Linked DNA regions of Homo sapiens: all the other regions are linked to region 2. Evidence: fine-mapped expression QTL. A gene starts in region 2. Each other region holds a variant in brackets. All regions are shown on one strand. Distances are between the middles of the regions. Region 1 has its middle 24 kb from the start of CLEC18A. Region 2 holds the start of PDPR (pyruvate dehydrogenase phosphatase regulatory subunit). Region 3 overlaps CLEC18C (C-type lectin domain family 18 member C). Region 4 overlaps PDPR (pyruvate dehydrogenase phosphatase regulatory subunit).

The links.
Region 1: its variant is fine-mapped to the expression of PDPR in whole blood (INTERVAL, PIP above 0.99).
Region 3: its variant is fine-mapped to the expression of PDPR in whole blood (GTEx, PIP above 0.99). The same link has a PIP of 0.9 or more in sun-exposed skin.
Region 4: its variant is fine-mapped to the expression of PDPR in lung (GTEx, PIP above 0.99). The same link has a PIP of 0.9 or more in breast, esophagus mucosa, fibroblasts, subcutaneous fat, sun-exposed skin and thyroid.

The regions. Positions count from the first base shown.
Region 1 is chr16:69,971,402-69,979,343 of GRCh38, forward strand. It overlaps the pseudogene PDXDC2P-NPIPB14P and the pseudogene NPIPB14P. Among named protein-coding and RNA genes, the nearest start is that of CLEC18A, 24 kb to the left of the region's middle. RefSeq lists an enhancer at 1,065-1,565. The variant A/AAAG (reference allele first, on the strand shown) is at 3,708.
Region 2 is chr16:70,109,789-70,117,730 of GRCh38, forward strand. PDPR (pyruvate dehydrogenase phosphatase regulatory subunit) reads left to right here and starts at 4,544. Exons shown (of 19, transcript NM_017990.5): 1 at 4,544-4,652; 2 at 5,033-5,142. RefSeq lists enhancers at 4,508-4,557, 5,078-6,020.
Region 3 is chr16:70,174,903-70,182,844 of GRCh38, forward strand. CLEC18C (C-type lectin domain family 18 member C) reads left to right here. Exons shown (of 13, transcript NM_173619.4): 3 at 45-136; 4 at 2,339-2,578; 5 at 6,948-7,045; 6 at 7,466-7,587; 7 at 7,745-7,852. Among named protein-coding and RNA genes, the nearest start is that of CLEC18C, 5.1 kb to the left of the region's middle. The variant G/A (reference allele first, on the strand shown) is at 2,413.
Region 4 is chr16:70,152,383-70,159,717 of GRCh38, forward strand. It overlaps PDPR (pyruvate dehydrogenase phosphatase regulatory subunit), which reads left to right. Exons shown (of 19, transcript NM_017990.5): 18 at 1,009-1,191; 19 at 4,093-7,335. The coding sequence ends at 4,497. It overlaps LOC400541 (a long non-coding RNA gene), which reads right to left. Exons shown (of 3, transcript NR_126007.1): 2 at 6,423-6,507; 3 at 3,958-4,122. Among named protein-coding and RNA genes, the nearest start is that of CLEC18C, 18 kb to the right of the region's middle. The variant G/A (reference allele first, on the strand shown) is at 4,938.

The DNA of each region.
Region 1 (7,942 bases), 140 kb before region 2:
GCCCTGGTCAGAACATGGGACTGACAAAGCCAGCACTTGTAGGCTGAGTCTCAGATCACGTGGCTTGTTTGTTTTGTTTGTTTGTTTTTGGGAGATGGAGTTTCACTCGTGTTGCCCAGGCTGGAGTGCAATAGCACCGTCTCAGCTCACTGCAACCTCCGCCTCCTTGTTCAAGCGATTCTCCTGTCTCAGCCTCCTGAGTAGCTGGGACTACAGGTGCACGCCACCATGCCTGGCTAGTTTTTGTATTTTTAGTAGAGATGGGGTTTCATCACATTGGTCGGGCTGGTTTCGACCTCCTGACCTCAGGTGATCCACCCACCTTGGCCTCCCAAAGTGCTGAGATTACAGGCGTGAGCCACTGTGCCCGGCTGGCTTTTTTTTTTTTTTTTTTTTTTTTGAGGAGTCGCACTCTGAAATCCAAGCTGGAGTGCAATGATGTGATCTCCCACCATGCTAGCTGTGTTTGTTGTTGTTGTTTTTTCTTTAGTAGAGATGGAGTTTCTCCATGTTGGTGAGGCTGGTCTTGAACTCCTGACCTCAGGTGATCCACCCACCTCGGCCTCCCAAAGTGCTAGGATTACAGGCGTGAGTCACCATGCCTGGCCTCAATTTCTTGAAAGACAAAAAAGACAAAAAGAAAAAGAGAAAGAAAGAAAAAGAAAAAAAAAGAAAAAGAAAGAGAAAGAGAACAAGAAAAAGAGAAGGAAAGCTCCATGGGTTTAAAGGCAAGAGTCAGCTTCAAGGAGGGCTGGGAAGTCAGGTGATGCCACCCCTGTGCTTCCCGCGGCCAGATCACCTGATGGAGGTACCGTTGGTTTTGGGCCCGTCTCTCAGCACTTGCTACCAGAGAGGACAGCTCTACACCAGAGAGTGAGGGTGGGAACCTGCTCACTGCTGTCTGCTCAGGGCTGGGCATGAGGCAGGTGCTCAGTAGGGGTCTGGAGAATAAATGAATGAACCATCACGGGGCCAAGCACCTGGAAGCGGGCTGGAGATGCTTGCTCTGGACTCCTGGCTCAGGAGTGGACTCCCCAGGTGGACTTCCTCCTGCATCGCCACAGCTGAGTGCATGGAGCACAGGTAGGGCAGCTAATGAGCAGGGTCATCATGAATGACAGCAGATGACACCAGGACAGGGGAGGTCAGTAGCCAGATGGGAAGAAAGCAGAATGAAACAGGTCGCCCGGGTGCAGTGGCTCATGCCTGTAATCCCAGCATTTCGGGAGGCCGAGGTAGGCGGATCACGAGGTCAGGAGATCGAGACCATCCTGGCTAACACGGTGAAACCCTGTCTCTACTAAAAATACAAAAATTAGCTGGGTGTGGTGGCAGGTGCCTGTAATTCCAGCTACTCAGGAAGCTGAGGCAGGAGAATTGCTTGAACCCAGGAGGCGGAGGTTGCAGTGAGCCGAGATCACACTACTGCACTCCAGCCTGGGTGACAGAGCAAAACTCCGTCTGGAAAAAAAAAAAAAAAAAAAAGAAAAAAGAAATACTAAGTAACTTGTCTGAGGCCACTTAGTTACCAAGACGTGGGAGCTGGGACTTGAACCCAGGCAGTCTGGCTGGATTCATGCCTGCAGCCTCTGCACTCCTGCTACTTACTGTGTGAGAAGCGCCTGTTCTGTGGCAGGTTGTGGGCTGAGATCTTTCCATGACTTCCACTCATTTACCCCCAAGGCTGTTCTTAAAGACGGGCATGACAGTTAGGCCCATTTTACAGATGGGGCCCTGAGGCTCACAAGGGCATGCCACTCACCCATCTCCACAAAGCTATAGCTCGTCAGCAGAGGGCAGAATTCGGCCGCCTCTCCCCTAGCTCGAAGGCTGTGATTGACACAGAGGTTTTGTTGTTGTTGTTGCTGTTGTTTGTTCCTTTTTCTTTTTTTTTTGAGACAGGGTCTTGCTCTGTCATCCCGGCTGGAGTGCAGTGGTGCGATCTCAGCTCACTGCAAACTCTGCCTCCAAGATGCAAATGATTCTCGTGCCTCAGCCTCCCAAGTAGCTGGAATTACAGGTGTGCACTACCATGCCCAGCTGTTTTTTGTAGAGATGGGGTTAGTAGAGATTTGTTTAATAGAGACGGGGTTTCACCATGGTCTCTACTAAACCCTGTCTCTACTAAAAATACAAAAATTACCCAGGCGTGGTGGCACATGCCTGTAGTCCCAGCTACTCAAGAGGCTGAGGCAGGAGAATCACTCGAACCTGGGAGGTGGAGGTTGCAGTGACCCAAAATCATGCACTCTGGCCTGGGGTCTCGCTTTTGCCCAGGTTAGAGTGCAGTGGCACAATCATAGTGGCTTACTGCAGCCTCAAACTCCTGGGCTGAAGGGAATCCTCCCACCTCAGCCTCCCAAGTAGCTAGGACTATAGGCATGTGCCATCATGGCGAGTTAATTTTTTGTGTGTTTTTATTTTCTCGAGACAGAGTCTTGCTCTGTTGCTCAGGCTGGACTGCAATGGCGTGATCTTGGCTCACCGCAACCTCCACCTCCTGGGTTCAAGCGATTCTCCTGCCTCAGCCTCCCGAGTAGCTGGGATTACAGGTGCGTGCCAGCATGCCTGGCTAATTTTGTATTTTTAGTAGAGACAGGGTTTCGCCATGTTGGTCAGGCTGCTCTCGAACTCCTGACCTCGTGATCCACCTGCCTCGGCCTCTCAAAGTGTTGGGATTACAGGCATGAGCCACTGAGCCTGGCCTGGGGAGCTAATTTTTAAATTTGTTATAGAGACAAGAGAGACAAGAGTCTCTCTTATGTTGCCCAGGCTGGTCTCGAACCCGTGGCCTCAAGTGATCCTCCCACCTCAGCCTCCCAAAGTGCTGGGATTACAGATGGGTGTCACCGCAGCTGGCCTCTGAGGAGGGTTTCATTATAAACCTGCCCTGAAGGGAGGGAATCCAATTTTACGAGAGGGTGTAGCCTGGTGAGGCCTGGATGACCTCCGCAGGCAGGGGCTTGTGCCTGGGCTGAGGCCTAAGGGACAATGGGCAGACATGAAGTTGCCCCAGGCAGAGGGTACAGTGTGGGCAAAGTCAGGAAGTGGCAGGGCTTGGATCACTCCAGGAAGAGAGAGGAGTCACGTGTCACAGGAGCTCGAGACCCAGAGAGAGAGTGAGGCAGGCAGGCAGGCAGGCAGGGACCAAGCTTGGGCACAGCCAGGAAGGCAGGACAGGGCATGGTGGGGCCAATGGAATCATTACCCAAGACGGGCATTTTCAGGGAAACAGCTTAGATAAGGCCAGGCGTACAGTAGCTCCCACCTGTAATCCCAGCATTTGGGGAGGCTGAGGTAGGAGGACTGCTTGAGCCTGGGAGTTCGAGACAAGCCTAGGCAACATAGTGAGACCCCATATCCACAAAAAATTTAAAAAAGGAGTTTGTGTTCCTGTAGTAGCATACTTGGGAGGTTGAGGTGGCAGTATCACTTGAGCCCGGGAGTTCAAGGCTAAAGTGAGCTGATTGATTGAGCCATTGCACTCCAGCCTGAGCGACAGAGAGATACGCTGTCTCAAAGGAAATACAAATTAAAAAACCAGCCGGGCATGCTGGCGTGTGCCTGTAGTCTCAGCTACTTGGGACACTGAAGTGGGAGGATCGCTTGAGCCCAGGAGTTCAAGGCTGCCGTGAGCTATGATTGTGCCTGTGCACTCCAGCCTGGGCGACAGAGAAAGACCCTGTCTGTCTCTTAAAAAAAAAAAA[A/AAAG]AAAAAAAAAAAAATCTTAGAGGATGCTGTGCCTCCCTGGGGGTCTTCAGTCACCCATGGTCCTGGCAGCAGAGGAGGGCCAGGAGAGAGCTTCACCCACCTGCTGTCCTGCCCATGTGACATCCGCAGGTGCTGCCATGGCCACGACTGTTGTTACACTGGAGCTGAGGAGGCCGGCTGCAGCCCCAAGACAGAGCGCTACTCCTGGCAGTGCGTCAATCAGAGCGTCCTGTGCGGTGAGTCCCCAGCACCACCATGCCACCCACCCCGAGTATCCCCTGGGCATCCTGGCATAGCCAGATGACTTCCGTGCCCCTGTTGCAATAACCACTGCTTCCAACTCTCTATAGACCACCCCTTGGGTATATCTAATGTAAGTGATATTTATTTTATTTATTTTTTGAGTCAGAGTCTCGCTCTGTCACCCAGGCTAGAGTGTGCTGATGTGATCTTGGCTCACTACAACCTCTGCCTCCTGGGTTCAAGCGATTCTCATGCCTCAGCCTCCCAAGTGGCTGGGACTACAGGCATGCACCATCACGCCCAGCTAATTTTTGTATGTTTTTCAGTAGAGGTGGGGTTTCACCAAGTTGGCCGGGCTGGTCTCAAACTCCCCACCTCAAGTGCTCTGCCCGCCTCGGCCTCCCAAAGTGCTGGGATTACAGGCATGAGTCGTGGTGTCTGGCCCTAATGTGAGTGATCTTTAACAATGAAGACTTGAAAAAGAAAACCCTGAAGAAACCTAATTCTTTGATGTCTGGACGACAAGGAAGAAGATAGAAATGGCATCAGATAATAAACAGTGTAAATGTTTATCAGAAAGAGGCTGGTGGTCGGGACCAGTAGGAGGATCGCTTGAGTCCAGGAGTGCATCTCTACAAAAAAGTTAAAGGATTTTTTAACATTGGCCAGGCATGGTGGCACACATCTGTGATCCCAGCTACTTGGGAGGCTGAGGCAGGATTGCTTGAAGCCCAGGAGGTTGAGGATGCAGTGAGCTGTGATTGAGCCACTGCACTCCAGCCTGGCTGACAGAGCAAAACCCAGTCTCAAAAAATAATAATAATATTTTACATAACCAACCACTTCTAAAGACTAAAAAAAACCCCTACAATTAAAAACCTCAGGTCCCTCAGGCAATCATACCGATATTGAAACAAAGCAATAACATAAGGACTGCAGTATTTATTTTATTTTTATATTATTTATTTATTCTTTGTTAGTTTGTTTTTGGAGTGTGGGTTTTGTTTTGTTTTTTGATTTTTTTCTTTTGTTCCACTCACAGATTTCTTCTTATTGCCCAGGCTTGAGTGCAATGACCTGTTCTCAGCTTACTCAACCTCTGCCTCTTGGGTTTCAGTGATTTTTCTGCCTCGGCCTCCTGAGTAGCTAAGGGAGGAGTCTTGAGATTATCATCCACGGAGGGTGGAAGAGGAGAGGGTGGAAGGGGAATAAGAAGACATTCGGGAGGTGTCTTGAGGCTCAGGGAGTTATCAGTTATAGAATGTTGTTGAGTTGGAGGAGGTGGCTGGCGGCCCATCCTGTTTTTTAAAGTTTCAGCTGTGAGGTAGGGCCAGTAGGGCAATCCTGAAGAATGACGATGCTCCGCTGCCGCCATTCTGACCTGTAGGGCCGAAGAAGGGAATGTTTTCACACATATTCATTTGATGGACAAAATTACCGCCACCAACACGGTCTGCACCTTCTGTTGCTGGTGATAGATTTTTGCACCTTTCCATCCTCCAGGTTTCAAAATAGCAGTATCAGTGTCATAATATCACCCTTCCACTGAGTACTGCCGACAGCTGGGGAGTAAAGAAAAGTCATTGGGACACACTGTTGTCTCCACATGCCACTGTGTCTGTCTGCAAATGTAGGCAGGCTGGGGTCCTGCCCCAGGGAAGACAGAGTCATAACAGAGTAATAAAGAGGCATGTTTGAGACACAGGAGTGTCTATGTCTATCCTCATTCCTCCCTCACAGCCATCACCAGAGCATGTTTCTTGCACCAGGTCAACAGACAGTAAGAGAGGCATGAAAAGCCCATTGTCCACACATGTTGCAGCTTCTTTTTGGAGAATGTTTTCCAGGCCTTTTATGTTCTGTCTCTGATTCTCGGAACTCTGCAAGGTCAGTGTGACCACCCTGCTCCAAATCTAAGAAAACAGAGGTTTCCAGAGGAAGGAGAAATTGTGCCCGGGGTCACACAGCTTGCAAGAGGCAGAGTGGAAGTTGATTCCAGCTCTGCCTGCAGGACCCTCTCATTTCCCCTGTTTCCCTTCTTGATAAAGGATCTTCTTCACTCTGGAGGTGCCACCCATGAGAACAAAGAGCTCTGCAGAGATGTGGATTCCTGAAGAGCTGCAGGGGAACTGGGAGAGGGTTTTCTGACAGAACAATCTTACCTCAAGAAGTCAGTTAGGCATGGCTGTAATATTTCTTTTCACTCCCAGGTAATACCAAATTGTAAGTGCACTAGGACATAAAGAATACTTTTGTCCATGGAAAAATGAGGTGGGAATTCTAAACAAAGCAAGTTTTAAAACTGTTTCACTTCAAGTGTACAAGTCCCATCACGTGTAATCATAGGACTCGGCAGCTTTTGAAGGTACAGAGGCCACACAAGAACCAGCTTAGCTGAGCATCATTTAAGGCCTTCATTTGGAATTGTCCCTGTGGGTAATAAGTTACATTCACTCTTCACTAATTTACAGTCAGGGCCCATTTGCTATTACAAATATGGAACCTCTGACACTTTGAATATTAGATCAGGGGCCCCACTGGGTGGGGATGAAGGTGTTTTTGCACAACACGGTTACCAACAGGGATGGGACTGTGATGCTTGTAGGCAGCCTTCCTCTCTGCCATCTCCCTCTGCAGGGCTTGAGCACAGAGCTGTAGGGAGAAAAATGTATCCATGTCCTGACCTGGCAGACTGTCCAAAAGCAAGGAAAACAAACAAACTTACCCAGTTGCAAAGAGGCTTTCTTGCAGAGGGGGTGATCTGAAAAAGCCAACACATGAGAAATTGAATGTTGAGAGAGTCTAAGGGCGGTGGCATCATCTGCATCAGCACTGAACTATCCTGCAACTGCGGGGAGGAAGCTCCTTACTTTGCATTTGTGGTAGTCCTCTGCCCGCCACCGCAACTCTTGCGCACGTTGAAACATTTTCCTATGGATTACAATCACTTTCATCAGATAAAGCACCACTTTCAGGATGATTTTAAATAATCTGCCACGTTTCTGTTATCCTCATAACTGTACCCTTACACAATCTATCTCTACCTAGAAAACGTATTTCAGAGGGCTATAAGAGTACAGTCTGAGCTGGTCGCGGTGGCTGACGCCTGTAGTCCCAGCACTCTGGGAGGGCGAGGCAGATGGATCACGAGGTCAGGAGATTGAGACCATCCTGGCTAATACGGTGAAACCCCGTCTCTACTAAAAATACAAAAAATTAGCCGGGCGTGGTGGCAGGCACCTGTAATCCCAGCTACTCGGGAGGCTGAGGCAGGGGAATCACTTGAACCTGGGAGGCGGAGGTTGCAGTGAGCCAGGATCACGTCATTGCACTCCAGCCTGGGTGACACAGCGAGACTCCATCTCAGAAAAACAAAAAAAAACTGTACAGTCTGATCCAAACTGTTGCTATATTGATTCCTCCTCTTGCTTACTGCCTGCTGACTTCTGAGATGATAGTTTCCTTCCCCATTCTCAGTATATCCCTAATTCATCCTTCACTGAGCATCTTTTATCATAAAGCTGTATTCTCTTTGTATTAATATCCTTACCGTGTTTCACAGGGCAGAAACAGCTGGGCTTATAAACAGGCATAGTCCTTTTGAAGGATGTGGTTGATCCTACAACAACACACTTTCCTAAGGATGACAACAACTCACCCCACCCCTAGAATGGCTGGTATGAACCGAGTTTCTACACAGTCTAGCTGGCAATGGGGTCAGGAGACCTTTTGCTGCTTCACATCTTTTGGTCACTGGTAAATATTAAGGTACTTTGTTTTCTGTTTTGTGAACTCTCTCTCTCTCTCTCACGATATGTCTTCTGACCATTTGTTTCTATTTCTGCATTTACTGGGTCTAAACATTGTACAGAGGTTAAAAACAACACTCCAATGGGCGTTTCCCAGGAGGGTGGGGTTCAGTTTCTGAACTCACTTGTAGGTGTGTATTTCTTTCATATCCAATTTCCCATTTTCCTCTGCCTCTGATACCT
Region 2 (7,942 bases):
AGCTGAGATTGCGTCACTGCATTCCAGCCTGGGCGGCAGAGTGAAACCCTGTCTCAAAAAAAAAAAAGAAAGAAAGAAATCAGTAATTCCAGCACTTTGGGAGGCCAAGGTGGGTGGATCACTTGAGGTTAGGAGTTCAAGACCAACCTGGCCAACATGGAGAAACCCCATCTCTGCTAAAAATACAAAAATTAGCCAGGCATGGTGGCGTGTGCCTGTAATCCCAGCTCAGGAGGCTGAAGAAGGAGAATCGCTTGAGCCTGGGAGGCAGAGGTTGCAATGAGCTGAGTAGACAGTTTTCAAGATCTCTCAAAAGGAGGGAACCTGGGGTATACTACGGGATTTCAGTTGAAAGACTTGGAGAGCTAGGCCCTGGGAACAGAGGCAAGTGAAGTAGACAGAACCCTATCAACACTGCATCCCATAGACCTTGAGCTAATAAACACAGAAGGAATTACAGAATTAGAAAGTTACCATTTGATAACCACCATAGTAAAATCGTCTCAAGCAAGTCGAGTCAGTGGATAATAAAACTAGTGAGGCTGGGTGTGGTGGCTTATGCCTCTAATCCCAGCACTTTGGGAGGCCAAGGCAGGCGGATCACTTGAGGTCAGGAGTTCAAGACCAGCCTGGCCAACATGGTGAAACCCCATCTCTACTAAAAATACAAAAAAATTAGCCGGGCATAGTGGTGGGCGCCTGTAGCCCCAGCTACTCGGGAGGCTGAGGCAGGAGAATGGCGTGAACCCAGGAGACGGAGCTTGCAGCGAGCCGAGATGGTGCCACTGCACTCCAGCCTGGGTGACTGAGCGAGACTCCGTCTCAAAAAAAAAAAAAAGAGAGAGAAGTTCCAGGCCGGGTGTAGTGGCTCACGCCTGTAATCCCAACACTCTGGGAGGCCGAGGCGAGCGGATCACAAGGTCAGGAGATCGAGACCATCCTGGCCAACATAGTGAAACCCCATCTCTATTAAAAATACAAAATTTAGCTGGGTGTGGTGGCACACGCCTGTAATCCCAGCTGCTCAGGAGGCAGAGGCAGGAGAATCCCTTGAACCAGGGAGTTGGAGGTTGCAGTGAGCCGAGATCGCACCACAGCAGTCTAGCCTGGCGACACAGTAAGACTCCGTCTCAAAAAAAAAAAAAAAAAAGAAGTTCCTGGCTGGGCGCAGTGGATCAAGAGATCGAGACCATCCTGGCCAACATGGTGAAACCCCGTCTCTACTAAAAATACAAAAATTAGCTGGGCATGGTGGCATGTGCCTGTAGTCCCAGCTGCTCAGGAGGCTGATGCAGGAGAATGGCGTGAACCCGGGAGGCAGAGCTTGCAGTGAGCTGAGATCGCGCCACTGTACTCCAGCCTGGGTGACAAAGCAAGACTCCGTCTCACAAAAAAAAAAAAAAAAAAAAAAAAAAAAAGAGTACTGATTGCTACTCGCAACATTCTTCTCTTCCCATGGTGTGAATGAGAACATCCCTGCTTTCCACACAAACACAGGCTCTCAAGCACACGAGAAGCATGCCAGGTGTCAGGTCCTTTCTGTGAAGTCGGTTGTAGGCAGATGTCCAGTCTACTGATGGGGACAAGAACTTCAGAGGGAGGAGGGAGGCCTTCCCCACAGCCATGCCGGTGCTGCAGGGAGGTAAGATAAACGCCTGCATCTTAGCGACCTCAGATCCAAATTCATTCTTACACTGTGGTAACATAGGTATGTCAAATGTTTGTCTGTACACTGTTTATCCTGTGTGGTAGCAAATACATTTACCAAGTCACTGCAGATGAAGATTTCACAAGAGGACTTGACAAGCGTAATTAAAACGTCTGTTTAGGGCAAGACATGGTGGCTCATGCCTCTAATCCCAGCACATTGGGAGGCCAAGGCAGGTGGATCTCTTGAGGTCAGGAGTTTAATGCCAGCCTCAGCAACATAGTGAAACCCCACCTCTACCAAAAAATACAAAAGTTAGCTGGGGACGGTGGCACGCGCCTGAGGTCTCAGCTATTCGGGAGGCTGAGGTGGGAGAATCGCTAGAGCCCAGGAAGTTAAGACTGCAGTGAGCCGTGATTGCACCACTGTGCTCCAGCCTGGGTGACAGGGTGAGAGCTAATCTCAAAAAATAAAAATAGGCTGGACGCGGTGGCTCACGCCTGTAATTCCAGCACTTTGGGAGGCCTAGGTGGGCAGATCACGAGGTCAGGAGTTTGAGACCAGCCTGGCCAACATAGCGAAACCCTGTCTCTAATAAAAATACAAAAATTAGCCCAGCGTGGTGGCGCACGCCTGTACAGTCCCAGCTACTGGGGAGGCTGAGGTAGGAGAATCCCCTGAACCTGGGAGGCAGAGGTTGCAGTGAACCGAGACCACACCATTGCACTCCAGCCTGGGCAACAGAGTGAGCCTCCATCTAAAAAATAATAATAAAATAAAAACACTCAATCCCCTAGAAAAAATAGTGCATCAGTGGTTATGAGAACCTACTAAGGACAAGACCCATCTTTGACAATGAAAGGGGCCTTAGGACTTACTTCCCTTTTTTTTTTTTTTTTGAGACAGTCTCGCTCTGTCGCCTAGGCTAGAGTGCAGTGACACAATCTTGGCTCACTGCAACCTCCGCCTCCTGGGTTTAAGCAATTCTCCTGTCCCAGCCTCCCAAAGTAGCTGGGATTACAGGCATGTGCCACCACGCCCAGCTAATTTTTGTATTTTTTAGTAGAGATGGGGTTTCACCATATTGATCAGGCTGGTCTCGAACTTCTGACCTCACGTGATCCAACTGCCTTGGCCTCCCAAAGTGCTGGCATTACAGGCATGAGCCACCGCACCCAGCCTGACTTAGCATTTTGGAGTGGAGGCCGATCATGGTGATGGAGAAGGAAATCAGGGACAGATCTACACCATTTGTTTGCTATTTACTGCACGTAAACAGAATGAAATCAACACATTAAGTATTTCACTTGATTTCATCCACCATCTCCTGCAGACAACCAGGTTTCTCCCAAATTCATGTGCCTGGAAATGGCTTGAACCAAATGGTTCATGAGGAAAACCTGTGATATTTTTCATGAAATCGCCACATCTGGGCATCAGGAAAGCCTTCCCCGAGAATGTCTCAAATTGGTCAGCCGTTTTCTCTTTTTTTAGACAGGTAGGTGTCCCCAAGCATTCAATCCTAGCTAAAATATGGAAGTATTTATCTAGCACAGGAGCCTATGGCATAGTTTCAGTCCACTGTCTGGCAGACCTCATCTGGGCTGTCTTTGTGTGATTTGACTGGCCAGTAAATGGGGTATAAACTATGTAGGCTGTGGCCTGGCCTTGTGACAGAGGGGTCCCTGGAACTTGACTGCCACTCCCTAAGAGCAGAAACCGCCTCTTTCTTGTACATTGCTGGATCCCATCATCCTGCACAGTGCCTGGCTACAGGTGGCCAGCAATAAAACACAAGATTGGGGCAGGCACAGTGGCTCACGCCTGTAATCCCAGGACTTTGGGAGGCTGAGATGGAAGGATCACTTGAGGCCAGGAGTTCAGGCCCAGCCTAGGCAACATAGTGAGCCTATCTCTACAAAAAAAAAATTTTTTTTAAATTAATAAAACACAAGATTGGTTTGTGTGGTGAGACAGTATTGAATCCAACAAACGGGAACTGGATAGTGTGGCCCAAGATGCAATGGTGGCTGCAGCATGAGACCCTTATGCATATAATATTCAGTGGAAGAGGTGCCAGGCACTGTTCTGGGTGCTGAGAATAAAGCTATGCATAAGACTAAGGTTCTGTCGACAGAGATCGTGTCACACCAGTGGAAAAGACAGTCATCAAACTTATATCCTTGAGTCAGTGATGAGTTCTAGAAGGAAAGAAAAGGCTGATGTGACAGTGAGGAAGGGATGAGTGGAGACTTCTCTGAGACTTCAGTGATTCCTCTTCCTCTGAGCTGAGCCAAGCTGAGAAGCTGAGAAGAGTAAGATAGGGCCGGGAACTCAGGTCCGTTAGTCCGTCCTCCGAGGTGGGGCGGGCCAGCAGAATGGATTTCCGATCTACTCTGTGAGAGCCTCGCCCAAGAAAGCCCAGAGCCACTTCCAAGATCCGCGCTCCCACGGCGATGAGAAGCGTTTTCCCCCGGGACTGCTTGGCTTAGGACTGGGGACCCACTGGCTTTGGAGTAAGCCCTGGCACGGGCCTCGAGGGAAGAAAGAACTCCCGCGCTCCCCACACTCCACAGGGCCTGCGATCATCTCAGATGTTCCGGTTCCACGTGCAGAAACCCCGCCGGTCCGAGGCCCCGGTTCTAAAACGGCCCTAAGAGTCAAGGCTTCCACAGCTCGCCTCTGAGGGTGGCAAAGAGGCCGCGGGGGCGGTGCCTCGCGAGACCCAAACAAGCCCACGTGGCAGGGGCGGGGCTCCGCGAAGGCGTCACGGCGCGCTCGTGCGCTGCTGAGGTCACGCGCCGGCAGTACCCTTGCCCGGGGGCCGTAAAGCGCGGAAGGTCGCGGTCTCGGCTTCCCCGGAACTTTTTGCTCGCTTCGCCCCGCCCCCTTCCCATCCCCGAACCCCGCTTTCCGGCCCGCGGCGACCCCAGGCAACTGTTGTGGCTGCCGCATTGCTCCCGCCGGGCTGTAGCTGAGCGCGGAGCCCGTGGGGACCGGTGAGGTAAGGAGATAGCTTCGGGGCAACTCTGGCCTCCCCGTCCGCGCGGGCCTAAGCGCCCCGGGACCCCTGGGTTCCCCTCTTTCTCCTTTGGTTTCGCCCGGGGGTGGTCCCCGCTAGCTCACGCTTCCAGTGGGTTCCGCCTGGCCTCTCGCGAAGTCGCGTCCGGGCGCCAGTACTCGTCCCCGTAAGGTTGTCCGCTCGTGCCTTGGCTTGTGTTCTCGGCTACCCCTGGGCGTGCGCACCGCTCCTCCAGGAGCCTGCACTTCAGCCCCGATGCCAGGGCGGCCGGGGTGACCTCGGGCTCCCCCGTCTCGGGCTTGCACACCCCTGCGGCGCAGAGCCAACTCCAGCTTGTCTAGCCCGGTCCTCCATCCCTGCAGATGGAACTGTTTTCCCGCGTTGAGACGTGCGGTCCGCTTGTGCTTTTAGAACTAAAGACTGCTGCAGAGTCCGGAGGAAGAAGTCACCTAGAAAAATCTGGGACAGGGCAGTAAGCTTCCTTCTTAATGTTTGACCTTTGGGGGCCGATGTGTGATACCTCGGATTTGAATCAAGAATCTCCAAGCCCATTTTCCGCATGCATGTAAACGTGATGTACCGGGATGGGGTCTGGTGGTGGAGGAGGAGCCAGCCTGACGGATAAGCTTTTCCAGTGGCAGGGACTTGTGTTAATTTCTTTTTTCTTTTTTTTTCTTTTTTCCGAGACAGAGTTTCACTCTGTCGCCCAGGCGGGAGTGCAGTGGCGCGATCTCGGCTCACTGCAACCTCTGCCTCCTGGGTTCAAGCAATTCTCCTGCCTCAGCCTCCCAAGTAGCTGGGAATACAGGTGTGCGCCACCACGCCCGGCTAATTTTTGTGTTTTTAGTAGAGACGGGGTTTCACTATGTTGGCCAGGCTGGTCTCGAACTCCTGACCTCGTGATTCTCCCGCCTCAGCCTCCCAAAGTGCTGGGATTACAGGCGTGAGCCACTGCGCTCGGCCAACTTGTGTTAATTTCTTAAACTTGCGTGATCACCTGGTGTACTTGTTGAAAAATACAGCTCCCTGGAGTGGCAGGATCAGAATCTGCCGAGGTGGACCGTGGGAATCTGTCATTTTTAAACAAGTGTCCCAGGTGGTTCTTTTGCTGAGGCAAGTGTGGGAAATGTTGTGTGAACCCACGCTCATCCAGTCTTCCTTGTGACCGGCAGTCCACTGTGCGCAACGCTGCAGCCATACAGAGGGACAACTCGAAGTTAGAACTAGCACCTTGGTCTTGTTGGAATAAGCAGATCTGAGTAGAGCCAGCTGCAGTCTTATGGTTGTTTAGCAGAAGTTATTCTTCTTAGCAGAGAATATTATACGGTCATTTTCCAGAACTGTAAAAACTCTATCATTTGTTTTAAACCAGATGATGTGCTTCATTTCTGTCTTTGACGTCTTCAGTTTCTTCTCCCCTGGCTTTACCTCCTTTGTTATCAGTTTGTGCTTTGGTTTTGCTGCCAACCTTATAGGTTTAGGTTTGGCGGCAAAGGCACTAGACTCTGGTGCCTTCTTTTCCTTCGTTGTCTTAAGCCCTTCTTTTCCTCTGCCCTCATGCCCTCACCACTTCACTCTTTTGAAGGTCATAATGAACACAAGGTCAGAGATCCCTTTTTTGGCGCCAAGCACCCTGGGCTTTTTTGAGATGGAGTCTCACTGTGTCACCCAGGCAGTGGCGCGAATCTGCCCACTGCAGCCTCCATCTCCCTGGTTGAAGCAATTTTCCTGTCTCAGCCTCCTGAGTAGCTGGGACTACAGGTGCAAGCCACGACACCTGGCTAATTTTTCTGTTTTTAGTAGAGACGGGGTTTCACCATGCTGATCAGGCTGGTCTCAAACTCCTGACCTCAAATAATCCACCCACCTTGGCCTCCCAAAGTGCTAGGATTACAGGTGTGAGCCCCTGCGCCTGGCCTTTCTTTGTTTTGTTTTGTTTAAGACAGAGTCTCACTGTGTCACCCAGGCAGGAGTGCAGTAGCATAATCTCGGCTCACTGCAACCTCTGTCTCCCAGGCTCAAGCGATCCTCCTACCTCAGGAGTTCAGGACCAGCCTGGGCAACATAGTGAGCCCCTCTCTACAAAAAAAAAAAAAAAATTAAAAAAATTAATAAAACACAAGATTGGCCTGTGTGGTGAGAGAGTATTGAATCCAACAAACGGGAACTGGTTAGTGAGGCCCAAGATGCAATGGTGGCCGCACCATGAGTACCTGGGACCACAGGTGCGTGCCACCACACCCAGCTAATTTTTTGTATCTTTGGTAGAGACGGGGTTTCACCATGTTTGCCAGGCTGGTCTCCAACTTCCGACCTCAAATGATCTACCCGCCTCGGCCTCCCAAAGTGCTGAGATAACAGGCGTGAGACATGGCGCCCGGCCTAAAGTTTTTTTTTTAATTCCACCTTAAAACTCATCTGTTACTGTGTTTGTTCTGCCACCTTTGCAATTCCCTTTCTCTGTTAGGGGAATGTGCTTAATGGTTCAGTCCTCACAGCTGTCCTTTCCTTACCATCTGCTTTTATTTGAAAGGTAGCGTGGAGTCATGATTAAATAGCCGGCCACTAATGCCAAATTGGCAGGGTTCTGCTACTCAACAGTTTGGTAGGACCTTGGGTGAGTCACTTCCACTTATCTGTGCCTGTTTCCTCAAGTGTAGAATAGAAATGCTAGTATCTACCTCATAAGGTTGTGAGGATTAAATTAGTTATATATATAGGCAGTATCTGGTGCATTGTAACTACTTATAAAAATATTAGCTTTAAAAATTATTTGCCGGTCACAGTGGCTCATGCCTGTAATCCCAGCACTTTGGGAGGCCAAGGCAGGCGGATCACGAGGTCGGGAGATTGAGACCATCCTGGCTAACATGGTGAAACCCCGTCTCTCCTAAAAATTAAAAAAAAAAATTAGCCAGGCATGGTGGTGGGTGCCTGTAGTCCCAGCTACTCAGGAGGCTGAGGCAGGAGAATGGCATCAACCCAGGAGGCAGAGCTTGCAGTGAGCTGAGATCGCACCACTGCACTCCAGCCTGGGCGACAGAGCGAGACTCCATCTCAAAAAAAATAAATAAGATGTCAAAGAGGCTGTGACCTGAGGAGATTACCTGTATTTGGGGGAGAGGTGGCAGGAACCATGCCAGGAGGGAACAGCATGCACAGAACCTGGAGCCGAATAGAACACTCACGCCTCACCTGATATGTTTGACGAATTACAGGTTGTTCAGTCTGGTTTGGTCAGAGTGTGAGGAAAGGAGAAATGAGACCACAGA
Region 3 (7,942 bases), 65 kb after region 2:
GTCCCCCCATCCTCGGGCTGCCTGACCTTCTCTCTCCACCCCAGCCCTGAACAGGAAGGAGAGTTTCTTGCTCCTCTCCCTGCACAACCGCCTGCGCAGCTGGGTCCAGCCCCCTGCGGCTGACATGCGGAGGCTGGTGAGTACCCGACCCAGCTGGGCTCTGCCAGGGGGGTGGCCGGAGGCGCGGACCCCAGAGGGCGGCTCAGGAGGCCACGCCTGTCCAGGTGCCCTTCCACTTGACCAGGGTGGGCAGGCACAGCCAGCCACCTTGCCCCTGAGGGACGGAGGCCCTGGTTGCTGGGGGTCTCTGCAGTTTCTTAACCCCCCACCCTCAGTTCAGGAGGTCGGGCCCCTTGGCTCCCACTCGCCTGAAGGGCAGGACCTTGGGCCTTCCCTGGCATCTTGTTGCCACAGAGACCAGGAGCCACAGGAGGAGCCGGATCCCCTCCTCCAGGGAAGGGGAGCTTCACGAGGAGCCCTGCAGGATGGGCGGCCGGGCCAGGGAGGGAGAAGGTCGTGCTGGGCTGGGGAGGGGCTTCTGTGCGGCAAGGACCCAGCGCCTCCTCCTGAGCTTATCTGAGCCACGAGGACGGGCCTTGCCCATGTTCTCTGCTCACTCACTCGTCCACATTTTCCACATTTTCAGCAGGGGCCGGGGGTCGGGGGTATAGAGTTCCCCACCAGCCCGGCTGGGGCTGCGGGGTTGGGACTGTCATCTGGAGGCTCAGAAACGCTGCCCTCCATTGTCTGGGACCCCAGCAGCCCCAGCCCATGTTAGCAGGCCAGGGAGCCAGGGCAGGGTGGTGGGGGCGGGAGGGTTCCCCATGGCTGCTTCCCATGAACTCCTCCAAGGCAGGTGGCCACAGTGGCGACCTTGAGCACTCTAGGGTCAGTTTCCCAGGAGGTGGGGGTGGGGTGGCTAAATGCGGGGGGTCGCTTCTCCCCCATTCCCAGCCCTGAGTGGCTCTGCCTCTCCTCAGGCTCAGACCCTGGGCAACCAGGGGTGCTCCCAGCTGTGACCTCCGTGGTTGGGTACTCCTGCCTGGGACCCCAGGAGGGGCTGCGGTGGTCGTTGGCTGGCAGCTGGCACCCTTTCCAGGGCCCTTTTGTCAAAGTCTTAGAAAACTTCATTTCCATAAAGGTGCAAATGGAGCTCCATGGCTCAGCCTCCCTCGTGGCCCGGCCCCGAGCACCCTCCGGGCCTCTAGGGCTCCAGGGCACCCCTTCTTTGGACACAGTGGAGACTGAAGGTCTTGTGGGGGTGGAGGGCTGCTGAGGGACCCCGGGGAGCCCCCAGCTCCTGGCCCCAGCCTTCATCAGAGGTAAAACCCCGATGGACATTAGTGCAGGATGAAGTTGGCTTGGGGTGCAGCCCCGAGGGGCCCCCCTCCCTGCATCCACTCAGTGCTTGTGAGTCCTATCCTGCAGGCACCTCCCTGCTCCGTTTACAGATGAGCTCAGGGAGTCTCGGGAGATCAGGGGACTGCACCAAGTCACCCAGGGGTGGTGATTGCCAGGCCCACTTGTTTAAGAAGAGGGAGGGGGCTGGGCACGGTGGCTCACACCTGTAATCCCAGCACTCTGGGAGGCTGACACAAGCAGATCACCTAAGGTCAGCAGTTTGAGACCAGCAATGGCCAACATGGTGAAACCCCGTCTCTACTAAAAATACAAAAATTAGCCAGGTGTGGTGTCACATGGCTGTAATCCCAGCTGCTTGGGAGGCTGAGGCAGGAGAATTGCTTGAACCTGGGAGGCGGAGGTTGCAGTAAGCCGGGATTTCTCCACTGCACTCCAGCCTGGGCGACAGGGTGAGACTCTGTCTCAAAAAAAAAAAGAAGAGGGAGGGGGCGGGGTCAGCTGTGCGTGGTGGGGAGCATATGAGGCCAGGCTCCTGGGGGCAGGAGACTAGGGCAGAGAGGCGTGGCTGTAGGGCTTTTTGCATCACAGGAGGGCAGCATGGCCGGGTGGGAGCAGTGGAGCCTTTCTGACAATGGCCAGGGCCCAAACACAGAACCAGTCTGCAACGCGTGGGCACTGCTCACATGACCAGATGGGAGAAAGACAGCAGGAGCGGGTCCCACTGCCTGGGCAGGGCCGAAGGATGCCCACGACAGGATTTGGAGATGGAGGCTCAGTCGTGAGAGGAGCTGGGCTCCTCCTGGAGGGACATCAGACAACACCAGTGCTTCCTCCAGCAGGACTCCTCATCCAGTGCTCTCTTTGCCACCTGACCTGGCACCCGGTGGATGCTCAGAGATGGCAGGGGAGTTGAATCTTTGAGGCCTGGCCCAGCAGTCAAAGGCCTCCCACAGATGTCTGTTTGTGCTGCCCCCAGGACTGGAGTGACAGCCTGGCCCAACTGGCTCAAGCCAGGGCAGCCCTCTGTGGAATCCCAACCCCGAGCCTGGC[G/A]TCCGGCCTGTGGCGCACCCTGCAAGTGGGCTGGAACATGCAGCTGCTGCCCGCGGGCTTGGCGTCCTTTGTTGAAGTGGTCAGCCTATGGTTTGCAGAGGGGCAGCGGTACAGCCACGCGGCAGGAGAGTGTGCTCGCAACGCCACCTGCACCCACTACACGCAGGTGAGTGTGCTGCAGGTGAGGCCAGCGTGCCAGCTCCCAGATACAGACTTCCACTGGTCCATCTCAGAAGAGGCTACAGTTTGTCCTAAATGTTGGGATTCCTTTTCCTCCAATTGGTTTAGTTTTACTTTTTTTTTTTTTGATACGGAGTCTTGCTGTGTTGCGCAGGCTAGAGTGCAGTGGCGTGATCTCGGCTCACTGCAACCTCCGCCTCCTGGACTCAAGTGATTCTTGTACTTCAGCCTCCTGACTAGCTGGGACTACAGGCATGTGCCACCAGGCCTGGCTAATGGCTTTATACTTTTAGTAGAGATAGGGTTTTACCATGTTGGCCAGGTTGGTCTTGAACTCCTGGCCTCAAGTGATCCACCCACCTCAGCCTCCCAAAGTGCTGGGATTACAGGCGTGAGCCACTGTGCCCCGCCACATTTTTTCTTTTTTTGGAGACATGGTCTCAGTCTGTCACCCCAGGCTGGAGTGCAGTGGCGTGATCTCAGCTTACTGCAACCTCCGTCTCCTAGATTCAAGCGATTCTTGTGCCTCAGCCTCACAAGTAGCTGGGATTACAGGTGTGCGCCTCTACACCCAGCTCATTTTTTTGTATTTTTAGTAGAGACAGGGTTTCACCATGTTGGCCAGGCTGGTCTCGAACTCCTGACCTCAAATGATCTGCCTGCCTCAGCCTCCCAAAGTGCTGGGGTTACAGGCGTGAGCCACCATGCCTGGCCTAAGCCACTTTTTTTCAATCTGAAATATAAATAATTTCAAACATAAACGTATTTATTTATTTATTTGAGACGAAGTCTTGTTCTGTCACCCAGGATGGAGTGCAATGGCTTGATCTCGGTTCACTAGAACCTCTGCCTCCCAGATTCAGGTGACTGTCCTGCCTCAGCCTCCCAAGTAGCTAGGACTACAGGCACGAGCCACCACACCCCACTAATTTTTGTATTTTTAGTAGAGATAGGGTTTCACCATGTTGGCCAGGCTGGGTCTCAAACTCCTGACCTCAAGTGATCCACCTGCGTGGGCCTCCCAAAGTGCTGGGATTACACGTGTGAGACACCGCACCCAGCCTCAAACGTAAATTTAAAACGGCCCCACTCTTACCCACTACCTAGGTTTAGAAGATGCTACTAAACTAAAGCCCTGCTCCTCCCCTTTTCCCGCTGTCCCTCCCTGGAGGGAATCTTCCCAAAGTTCAGGAGCATCACTGCCAAGCAAGTTTCCATTTTTTCTCTTCATTCAACAAATATTTGTTGAGGGTCTTCTACACACACCTGGTGCTCTTCAGATGCACTGAAAAACACAAGCAAAATCCCAGGAAATATTTAATACCTCCACTACCTGTGCAAGTGGGTTGTGCATGTTTAAATATTACACAAGGCTGGGTGCGGTGGCTCACGCCCGTAATCCCAGCACTTTGGGAGGCCAAGGTGGCAGGATTGCCTGAGCCCGGGAGTTCGAGACCAGCCTGGGCCACATGGAAAAAACCTGCCTCTACAAAAAAATACATAAATTACCCAGGTGTGATGGTGTGCGCCTGTAGTTCCAGCTACTTGGGAGGCTGAGGTAGGAGAATTGCTGGAGCCTGGGAGGTGAAGATTGCAGTGAGCTGAGACTGCGCCATTGCACTCCAGCCTGGGCAGCAGGAGTAAAACCCTGGCTTAGTAAAAAGAAGAACATGTGCCCCTACAACTAGGTGCTGCCAAAGTGCTTACGCCAACTGTGCAGACCAGCAAACCAGTTCCCACTTCCCGAAGATCTTCTGGCTCCTTAATTTTTTTTTTTTTTTTTGAGACGGAGTCTTGCTCTGTCGCGCAGGCTACTGTGCAGTGGCGCGATCTCGGCTCACTGCAAGCTCCGCCTCCTGGGTTCACACCATTCTCCTGCCTCAGCCTCCCTAGTAGCTGGGACTGCAGGCACACGCCACCACACCCGGTTATTTTTTTGTATTTTGTTTAGTAGAGACAGGGTTTCACCGTATTAGCCAGGGTGGTCTTGATCTCCTGACCTCATGATCCGCCTGCCTCGGCCTCCCAGAGTGCTGGGATTACAGGTGTGAGCCACTGTGCCCAGCCTTGGCTCCTTAAGTTTTGTCAGACTCAAAGGTGTGAAAAACCTAACTCTGTTTTGTTGTTGGTGGTTGTTTTTTGTTTGTTTTGTTTTTGTTTTTGTTTTTTCGATTCAGAGTCTTGCTCTGTTGCCCAGGCCAGAGTGCAGTGGTGCGATCACAGCTCACTACAACCTCCGCCTCCCCAGTTCAAGAGATTCTCCTGCGTCAGCCTCCTGAGTAGCTGGGATTACAGGCGCCTGCCACCACACCTGGCTAATTTTTGTATTTTTAGTACTCCTGACGTCAGGTAATCCACCTGCCTCGGCCTCCCAAACTGTTGGGATTACAGGCTTGAGCCACCACGCCCAGCCTCTATTATTGTTTCTAATTTTCTTGATGTGAATGTTTAGATCATTAATTTTAAATCATTTTTTGTTTCTACTATATACATTTAAAGCTATAAATTTCCCTTTAAACGATTTCAGCTGCATCCAATAAGTTTTGATGTTTTTTCTATTTCCAATCATGATGTTGTTTTTGTTTGTTTTGAGACATGGTCTGGCTCTGTCGCCCAGGCTGGAGTGCAGTGGTGCAATCTCAGCTCACTGCAGCCTCAATTTCCTGGGCTCAGGTGATCTTCTCACCTCAGGTCCGGAGTAGCTGGGACTACAGGTGTGTGCCACCATGCCTGGCTAATTTTTTGTATTTGTAATAGAGATGGGGTTTTGCCATGTTGGCCAGGCTGATCTTGAACTTCTGAACTCACATGATCCACCCAACTCAGCCTCCCAAAGTGCTGGGATTACAGATGTGAACCACCACACCTGGCCATGATGTTGTTTTAGATTTTGAAGTGTATCTTTAAGTTTCTAAACTATGTTATCTTCTCTATTTACTTGTAAATTATTTACTTTAAATTTCATTGCATTGAATTCATAGAATGTGGGCTGTAGGATGTGCTGATTCTTTGCTATTTGTTGAAACTTGCTTAGTGGTCTAATGTATGGTCCTCCTTTCTGGTTTGCAAAAGTCCCATGCATTCCTAAAAACGATACATATTCTTTAAGTGTTGGATACATGTATATGATCACATGTTCACATCTGCCTGCTACAAGCCAGTCTTGTACATGTCATTTTTAGTCTCTACTGGAGAGTTTGTTTCACTCTTCTTATATATTGCCCATTTGTGCTATTTCCAAGCTGTTGCTGATTCTAAGACTTTAAACTGGTTTGCAGACCTGTATCCATTAGGTTTTATTGCATGACATACTACCCCAAAATTTAGCAGCTTACGATTCTGCAGGTCAGCCACTTGGGTTGGGCTCAGCAGGGAGGTTTTCTGGTCTTGGCTGGGCCCACTCATACACCTGCAATCAACTAGGGGGCCGGCTGGGAGCTGGCTGTGCAAAAAGGCCTCTAATGGTTCATCTCTGTTCCATGAGGCCTTCCAAACTCCTATACTGAGTTTGTTCATGTGGTGACTGAGCATGGTTCTATGAGAATGAGTGGAAATGGCAAGGTCTCTTAAGGCCTAGGTTCAAAATCGGCTCAGTATCACTTCTGTGGCATTCTGGTGGCCAAACCAGTTACAGAGCCAGCCAGATTCAAGGAGCAAGGAAAGAGACACCTCTCTTTGCTGCAAAAAGCTGCAGAGTCACATTTAAAGGAGTGGCCTGGTGCAAGAAATGAATGGTTGTGGTCACCATGCAGTCACAAGGCCCTTGATGTTCCAGTCTTTTTTTGGCTACTCCCCTCCACCCATCAACAATCTCCCCTCATTTCAGGTACCTCCCCTCTCCATCCCCCTCTCAACTAAGAAAGCCTTCCTAGGCCGGGCACGGTGGCTCACACCTATAATCCCAGCACTTTGGGAGGCCGAGGCAAGCAGTTCACCTGAGGTTGGGAGTTCAAGACCAGCCTGACCAACATGGAGAAGCCCTGTCGCTACTAAAAATACAAAAAAATTAACCGGGCCTGTAATCCTAGCTACTCGGGAGGCTGAGGCAGGAGAATCACATGAACCCAGGAGGTAGAGGTTGTGGTGAGCCAAGATCAGGCCATTGCACTCCAGCCTGGGCAACAAGAGCAAAACTCCATCTCAAAAATAAATAAATAAATAAATAAATAAATAAATAAATAAGCCTTCCTGAACTATTCCCACCCATGCTTCTACCCCTGCCCAGGACAGCTGCTGCTCCTGAGCCCTCGAGGAGGTAAGGGAGCCCTCTGTTCACCTGGATGATAGCGAAAGCTGTGTCCCCCTCCCCAGGGGTGGTTCACAATAGGGTTTCTGATCCCCTGTGTCTCCTGTAGCTCGTGTGGGCCACCTCAAGCCAGCTGGGCTGTGGGCGGCACCTGTGCTCTGCAGGCCAGGCAGCGATAGAAGCCTTTGTCTGTGCCTACTCCCCCAGGTAAGCCCTGCTACACCCTCTGCTGGGATGTCTGGGAGACAGGGAGGGGTGCTTTCACCGAGGGTGAGATTCCCACACATCCACCCGAAAGTAGAGTCCCTGATGCCTTGCTCTGCACCCTTGGTGGGAGAGGGGAGGAGAGGAAAGGCAGAGGGTGCTAAAGATTCTGGCCACGCAGAAGGTGCTGCTCTGCGGATGTCCCTTCCTGGATACTGGTCCTGGTATCAGGGAGTTTGTCCAGGATTGGTTTGGAGGCCATCTCTTCTCTCCCAGGGAATCTCCCTATCTCACCCAGCTCCCTGACTCCCTGGCCTGGCCGCAGGAGCTGAAGGGGCCAGGGGGGCAGGCAGCAGGGCCCTGCCTCTGCCTTGCCCAAGGCCAGGCCCTCCCACACCCTGTGGTGCCTGCTCGTCCTCACAGAGGCAACTGGGAGGTCAACGGGAAGACAATCGTCCCCTATAAGAAGGGTGCCTGGTGTTCGCTCTGCACAGCCAGTGTCTCAGGCTGCTTCAAAGCCTGGGACCATGCAGGGGGGCTCTGTGGTGAGTGCATGAGGGCTCAGTCTGGTGACCCTGGGGTGGGGGTGGTAGCATCCTACTGGGCTGTCCCAGAAGCCCTGGCCCTTAGCACCCAGGGAGGCTCCTGCCCGGCCTGCTGGGAGGAGACCCTTTTCTCAGAGTCCCCTCCTCCTCTGACCAGAGGTCCCCAGGAATCCTTGTCGCATGAGCTGCCAGAACCATGGACGTCTCAACATCAGCACCTGCCACTGCCACTGTCCCCCTGGCTACACGGGCAGATACTGCCAAGGTGAGGGCACTGGAGCCTGGGTGTGCCCAGCCCTGCTCTCGTGGCAGGTCCTAGGGCTGCTACACTTCCTGAGAGTCTCAAGGGTGTCAG
Region 4 (7,335 bases), 42 kb after region 2:
GCGGCAGCCACCTATAGTACCAGCTACTCGGGAGGCTGAGGCAGGAGATTCACTTGAACCCGGGAGTGGAGATGGCAGTGAGCCGAGATCGCGCCACTTCACTCTAGCCTGGGCAAAAGAGCAAAACTCTGTCTCAAAAATAAATAAGTAAATAAAGTTGTCTTGATCATAGTGGTCTGTTTGGTAGATGCCTGTTCAGCTACAGTGGTGCAGTTCATAGAAACATACTGTGCTAGGATAAAGAACTGCAGTACCACTGAAGCTGGTTCTTTGCTACGTCTTGCTTTGGATTTCATTTTACAGTTTTAAAAGCAAACAGTGTAGTCTCATTTTTGTTGGACTTTAAACTTAACAGCGTATGTTCAGACAGGGATTGAATATTTGCTTTCAGTTTGGAAAACCTTCTGTTCACTGATCTGATAACGTACATGTTTCTGAAACCAAGAAAAGAGCAGCTTGAGAGCCTGAATGCTGTGGGACATGAGCAGGCGAGCCCTGCCTTCCTGGCTCCCCCGCCGTCATCCGATGTGTGCACACGTCTCGAGTAACGTGTGAGAGCTGGGCCTCACAGCTTGGGCCAGTACGTGAGGGAGTAACAGTGGTTGGGAAATTGGAGCAAAAGAACAAAGCCAGAATCAGATGAAGACCATGGAGGGTTGGTGGGCTGTTTTAGAAATGATGATGAGATTGGCCATTTACCAAATGGTGAGAGAGCTTCTATAAATTATTATTTAAGAATTGCTGTAAGCTAGAATCACCACACAAGACATTTTAGAGAGGTGAAAAGACATGGATCCTGTTGTCATGGAGCTTAAGTCCAGGCTGGGGTGACCCCAGCTCATCACTCCTGGGCTGTGCCCTGAGCGTGTCAAGGATGAGACATCCTGGGAGTTTTATACGCCTCCTCTCTTGTCCATGTTAATAGTGTGAGCCATCAGCGCTTCCAGACATGCTCCATGCTTAATTCTGAAGGTCTGCTGCTTATGAACTTTCTGTCTCTTCCTATAGTACGCCCTGCATGTATACAATGAAGTGATGAGTGTTGGCCAGAAATACGGAATCCGGAATGCTGGGTATTACGCTCTTCGCAGTCTCCGAATTGAGAAGTTTTTTGCCTTCTGGGGTCAGGATATAAATAACCTCACCACGCCCCTGGAATGTGGACGAGAGTCTCGGGTGAAATTAGAGAAGGTACTGTGTTTACCCAGACTCCACTTTCACTCAGCATCCCGAGTAGTGAATCTGCACTAGACTAGGAAGAAGAACTGATGTGACAGGAAAAGGGGGAAAAGATTGAGGCCTTGATGTTAGCATCAGGTAAATGAGGACAAGAGTGCCCTGAGAATGAAAACTTTATAGGATAAAATATCTTCAAATGAAAACATAATAATGGTGGCTCACGCCTGAATCCCAGCACTTTGGGAGGCTGAGGCGGGTGGATCACCTGAGGTCAGGAGTTCGAGACCAGCCTGGCCAACATGGCAAAACCCGTCTCTACTAAAAATACAAAAAGTAGGCCGGGCACGGTGGCTCACACCTGTAATCCCAACACTTTGGGAGGCCAAGGCGGGCGGATCACAAGTTCAGGAGATCGAGATCATCCTAGCTAACACAGTGAAACCCCGTCTCTACTAAAAATACAAAAAATTAGCCGGGTGTGGTTGCGGGCGCCTATAGTCAGGAGAATGGCGTGAACCCAGGAGGCAGAGGTTGCAGTGAGCCGAGATCACGCCACTGCACTCCAGCCTGGGCGACAGAGCGAGACTCCGTCTCAAAAAAAAAAAAATTTACAAAAAGTAGCTGGGCGTGGTGGCCAGCACCTGTAGTTCCAGCTACTCGGGAGGCTGAGGCAGGAGAATCACTTGAACCTAACAGGCAGAGGTTGCAGTGAGCCAAAATCGCACCACTGCACTCCAGCCTGTGTGACAGGGCAAGACTCCGTCTCAGAAAAAAGAAAACATAGTAAATAGATGACACTTGGTCAGGTGCGGTGGCTCACAACTGTAATCCTAGCACTTTGGGAGGCCAAGGCAGGAGGATCACTTGAGCTCAGCCTGGGCAATACAGCAAGACCTTGTCTCTGAATTACAATTGAAAAACAAACAAAAAAACCCACTTATTTCTAGTGTTCTGCTGTCTAAAAGACTGAGTGCTTTCTGGGAAGCTATTCTGAGTTAATTATGGTGATGCATTAACATGCCACGAATATTTGTACAAACTAGTCGTCCTATAGTCAGCTGCCTAATTTTTGTGGTTTTTTTCTTTTGTTTTTGATTTTGAGGTGGGGTCTCATTCTGTCACCCAGGTTGGAGTGCAGTGGCGCGATGTTGGCTCACTGCAATGCCCTCTCATGCTCAAGTGATCCTCCCACTTCAGCCTCCCAAGTGGCTGGGACCACAGATGCACAACCATGCCCAGCTAATTTTTTTGTATTTTGGTAAAGACAGAGTTTCACCACATTGGCCAGGGTGGTCTCGAACTCCTGAGCTCAGGTGATCCGCCCTCCTCGGCCTCCCAGAGTGCTGGGATTACAGGCGTGAGACAGCACACCCGGCCTAATTTTTTTGGTTTTTTTGTTTTGGGCGGATCACCTGAGTTCACAAGTTCGAGACCAGCCCGGCCAACATGGTGAAACCCCGTATCTGCTAAAAATATAAAAATTAGCTGGGCATGGTGGCAGGCACCTGTAATCCCAGCTACTCGGTAGGCTGAGGCAGGAGAATTGCCTGAACCTGGGAGGCAGAGGTTGCAGTGAGCCGAGATCATACCATTGTACTCCCACCTGGGTGACAGAGCAAGGCTCCATCTCCAAAAAAAAAAAAGGTAATAACCCATTTTGGAAAATATAAAGAAGGAAATTAAAATCACCCATATTTTGTCTATTTAATGGTAGTAACTATTTTTTTTTTCTTTCTTGAGACGGAGTTTCGTTCTTGTTGTCCAGGCTGGAGTGCAGTGGCGCGATCTCAGCTCACTGCAATCTCTGCCTCCTGGCTTCAAGCGATTCTCCTGCCTCAGTCTCCCGAGTAGCTGTAAGCCATCCAGCTAATTTTGTATTTTTTGTCTTTACCAAAATACAAAAAATTAGGTGGGTGTGGTGGCGCATCTGTGGGCCCAGCTACTTGGGAGGCTGAAGTGGGAGAATCACTTGAGCATGAGAAGGCATTTTTGTATTTTTTCTTTTTTTAGTAGAGATGGGGTTTCTCCAGGTTGGTCAGGCTGGTCTCGAACTCCTGACCTCAGGAGATCCCCCCGCCTTAGCCTCCCAAAGTGCTGGGATTACAGGCGTGAGCCACCGTGCCTGGCCATAATCACCGTTAATAGTTTATTCTAGTCTTATTTGTTGTACATATGTGTATATATGTGTGTATGCATTGAATATAGATGTGCATGGTCTTGTTGGGATTATATAAAAAAGTCTTTTTTTTTTTTTTTTTGAGACAGAGTTTTGCTGTGTCAACCGAGGCTGGACTGCAGTGGTGCAATCTTGGCTCACTGCAGCCTCTGCCACCCAGGTTCAAACGATTTTCCTGTCTCAGTCTCCCTAGAATTATAGGCACACTCCACCAGAATCTTGGCTCACTGCAGCCTCTGCCTCCCAGGTTCAAGTGATTTTCCTGTCTCAGCCTCCCAAGTAGCTAGAACTATAGGCACACTCCACCACACCCAGCTTATTTTTGTATTTTTAGTAGAGATGAGGTTTGCCTCATCTCTGTTCAAGGCGTGAGCCACCACGACTGGCCAATATAAAAACATTTTTCTAAAGTACTGGACTGATAAGGTATTTTATTAAGTGAGTGAGTTTTCTTCCTAAACGTTTTTGTTCTATCTGGTCTTGTGACTTTATGTTTATAAAATAGGAAACAAAATGCGTACCTCTGTTGTTACAAAAATTACCGCGGCGTCTTTTATATTTCACATGCAGTTTTTCACATGGTAGAAATCGCACAGTTTCCCAAAAGCTGGCAGGGTTGTGGGAGGAGGCGGCTGTGCCCCATTGCAGTGACACCAGGGGACCCTTCCCACGGTGCTGCTCTCTGTGCCGAGGGTCTGAGTGTCGCTGGATGACTCGGCGTTTCCTTTCTTTCTTAGGGCATGGATTTCATTGGTCGCGACGCCCTCCTGCAGCAGAAGCAGAATGGAGTGTATAAACGCCTCACCATGTTCATCCTGGACGACCATGATTCAGACCTAGACCTTTGGCCTTGGTGGGGAGAGCCCATTTACCGGAATGGGCAGTATGTTGGCAAGACCACCAGCAGTGCCTACAGCTACAGCCTGGAGCGCCACGTTTGCCTGGGCTTTGTGCACAATTTTTCTGAGGACACGGGGGAAGAGCAAGTGGTGACAGCAGATTTCATCAACCGGGGAGAGTATGAGATTGACATCGCGGGATACCGCTTCCAGGCCAAGGCCAAGCTCTACCCTGTCGCCTCCCTCTTCACCCAGAAGCGCCGAAAGGATGACATGGAGCTGAGTGACTTACATGGGAAGTGATGCCACCAGGGCAGCCTCACCTCCTCCCCATCATCTTGTCCTAGAGTGGGCGTCACCTTGGAGCTTCTCTTCCTTCCGCCTCTGTTCCTCTTCTGGAGCCTTTGCCTCCCATCTCTTATCTCCTTGATATAATTTTGAACTTGACCTACTTTAAACTTTTTTGCTCTGCAGCCTTCCTTGCCCTTCCACCTCCTCCTCCTAATATTCACTCTGGGCTCTTCTTCCCTTCCCACCCCTCACTCAGCTTCTCGTGGTGGCAGGAGGTATGTCTGACAGGACAGAAGCAAGCTCCACTGTGGACATGAGTGATGGTGACAGCTGCTTTCAAATTCTGCATCTCAAGGCAGGGCAAGCCGGGGTGGTGCAGGTCTCAGGGCACGAGTCCCTCTCCCTTGGGTTCCATTTTCTTGGAGCAGCCTATTAGTTCTGGTGGGGTTGCC[G/A]TGTGTCGGATGCAGCCCTGAGGGGCAGCTCGTGCCTGCAGCCCGGCAGCTCGTTCTCCTGTTCTGCTGTGCTGTGGGCTGGCACTCGATACCTCTGGCAAGAGGATGATTATCTACCTCACTGATAAGAGGCATCGCATGGACGTTCTCTGGTCTGTAGTGGAGACAAGCAGTTAACCTAGCACCATCCTCATCCTCCCTGCAGAAGCCATTAGCAGACCTTTGGGCCAGGGCAGCCTCCCTATAATTTTCTTCATCTCTTGCTAATCTCTATAATAAGGTTGCTTTTTCTTTCTTAGTTGAGTAAACAAGTAAGCCACAGTGTTTGAAAGGGAAAAACCATATTGCCTTGTGTGTTGCTTTTCCCAGTCAAAAGGGTCTGACCTTAGAAAGTCCCCACCAGTGATGCTGAGTGTTCTGCTATGGAAACAATGCTGCTTTTCTCTCAGCTGTCCAAAGTTCAGCCGTTCCTCCTTCCCCTTCTCCCAGTGCGTTTGACTTTGTCAGGTCAGCCTCACTTGTCCCTTTCACAGTTGGCCCATAAAGTCATGTTTCTCTCCCTTTAGAATAGGGAGGGGAAGGGATCAGGTGTGTTGTCCTGGGCCTTTCAACCTTGCGGGCTGTGCTGAGTTCCAGAGAGCTGCCGGAATTCCAGGTTTGACTCTCCAGCACAGAGCAGAGCTACACAGAGGTGACCCACGTTAGTCCACTGAGAGTTCTGAGTCCAAAGGGTGTACGTTGCATAAGGCTAGAGACCGCTTTTCCTCCTTTCCCCCCAGGCTCTTTGTTTCCCTCCACCCACCCTTCCATATCCTCTGGAGCAGGAGACAATGTGGGTGCCCAGAAGTGCCCTGCGCTTTCAGGCAGTGTCTCTGTTTTCCCAAGGTGAAACTTAGATATCATGGACTGTTGTCCAGCCTCAATGCTTCATTTTCCCCTTGCATATCAACTGCCCTAATCTGACTTTTTTTAAGTGCAAATAAACTGCTATAAGACATTTTGGTTAGTAAAACTCTAGCCTTTGGCGTGTTGGTATCTTGGAAGCATTAGCTCTGATAGGTCTATAAGTGTATTAAGGGACATCCTTCCATTTCATTAGAGCAGCTTAAAATGCTCAGGTGTCTGCCTTCTCTGGTGTTTCTTTGGGATCTCTGTTTACCCACTTACGCTGGCTCCTTCTAGACATTTCTTGCCACTTCCCCAACTAGACCACTCCTAGTGATTACTGACTTTAGTGCCTAAACCTTTTTGGAAGGTTCTGGTTGGCTTGTTAGAGGAGCATATGATTAGAATTCTGTTTGGGGGTCTAGTTGTCTTGGAGCAAGTATGTACTTAACTAGCCGAGAGATGCTGCCTCTAGGCAGAGAGGAGGAGAGGTGTTGCCGGCTGGAGGGCCAACCAGTGAACACCAGCTGTGAAGGCCTTGGGAGAGGAGGAACAGGCCCTTGGGCAGATGCAGGCATTACCAGCAGGGAGCAGACTTACCTCCGAAGATGGAGACAGGTGACTGAGAGCTGCAGGCCTCCTCTGCTCTTCCAAACACGTAGCATTTGCACCCCTCCAAAGCCATCTTTGTAAAGGAAAACGTATTTGTAATTGAATCCAGAAGAATTTAGTTACACATAGACATAACTCTTCAACCTTAACTATGGCAATACATTTGTGCTTTAACTGTTACATAGCAGTATCACCACTTACCAGGATCCAAATCGAAATAATAAAAGCTGTCTCCATAGTTTAAAATCGAATAGTGCCATCATCACAGTATATTAGTCAAATAGAAGCTTCATCAGAAATGTATCCCACATAGAGTTTTAAGACTTGGATTCTCTTCTGCCCTTGTTAATCTCCAACTAATTACTACAGATTGACACGTTTTTAATTAGCTGTCCTTTGTAAGAAGTCAGGAAATCTGATGCTGTGTCCAAAATTATGCACTGTTTGTTGAAGTAGAACCAGAAATCCTGACCTCCTGTTAAATGACATCAGTTTCCCCCTCTGAGCAACAGACTGCTTGTCTTGCTAGGAGAGGAGGATGGGGGGCTGAGCACTCAGGCTGTCCATTGAAACCCCTTGTCCATGAATAGGGTCATACTCCTAAGACTGATGGGGTGTTGATCTTCTAGGACATCACTTGTTTATTCAGTGCCCCAAACACAGATTTCTCTTCTAGCACTTTAGAGTTGATCCTTGAAGTCTCTCCTGGTTCATTCAAATACAAGCTGTGTGAGTCTGGTGGTTTTCTGTGATTGGTCTAATGTGAGCTCTTTGAACAGACAGATCTGACAGTGAATGACTCTCCCCTGCTTCTGGCATAACTGCTTTGCCTCTGTCTAGTGTCCAAGCATCTTAGCTGTTCAAGAGGAGAGGGCAGCATAACTTCCTGACCACCGGTGTC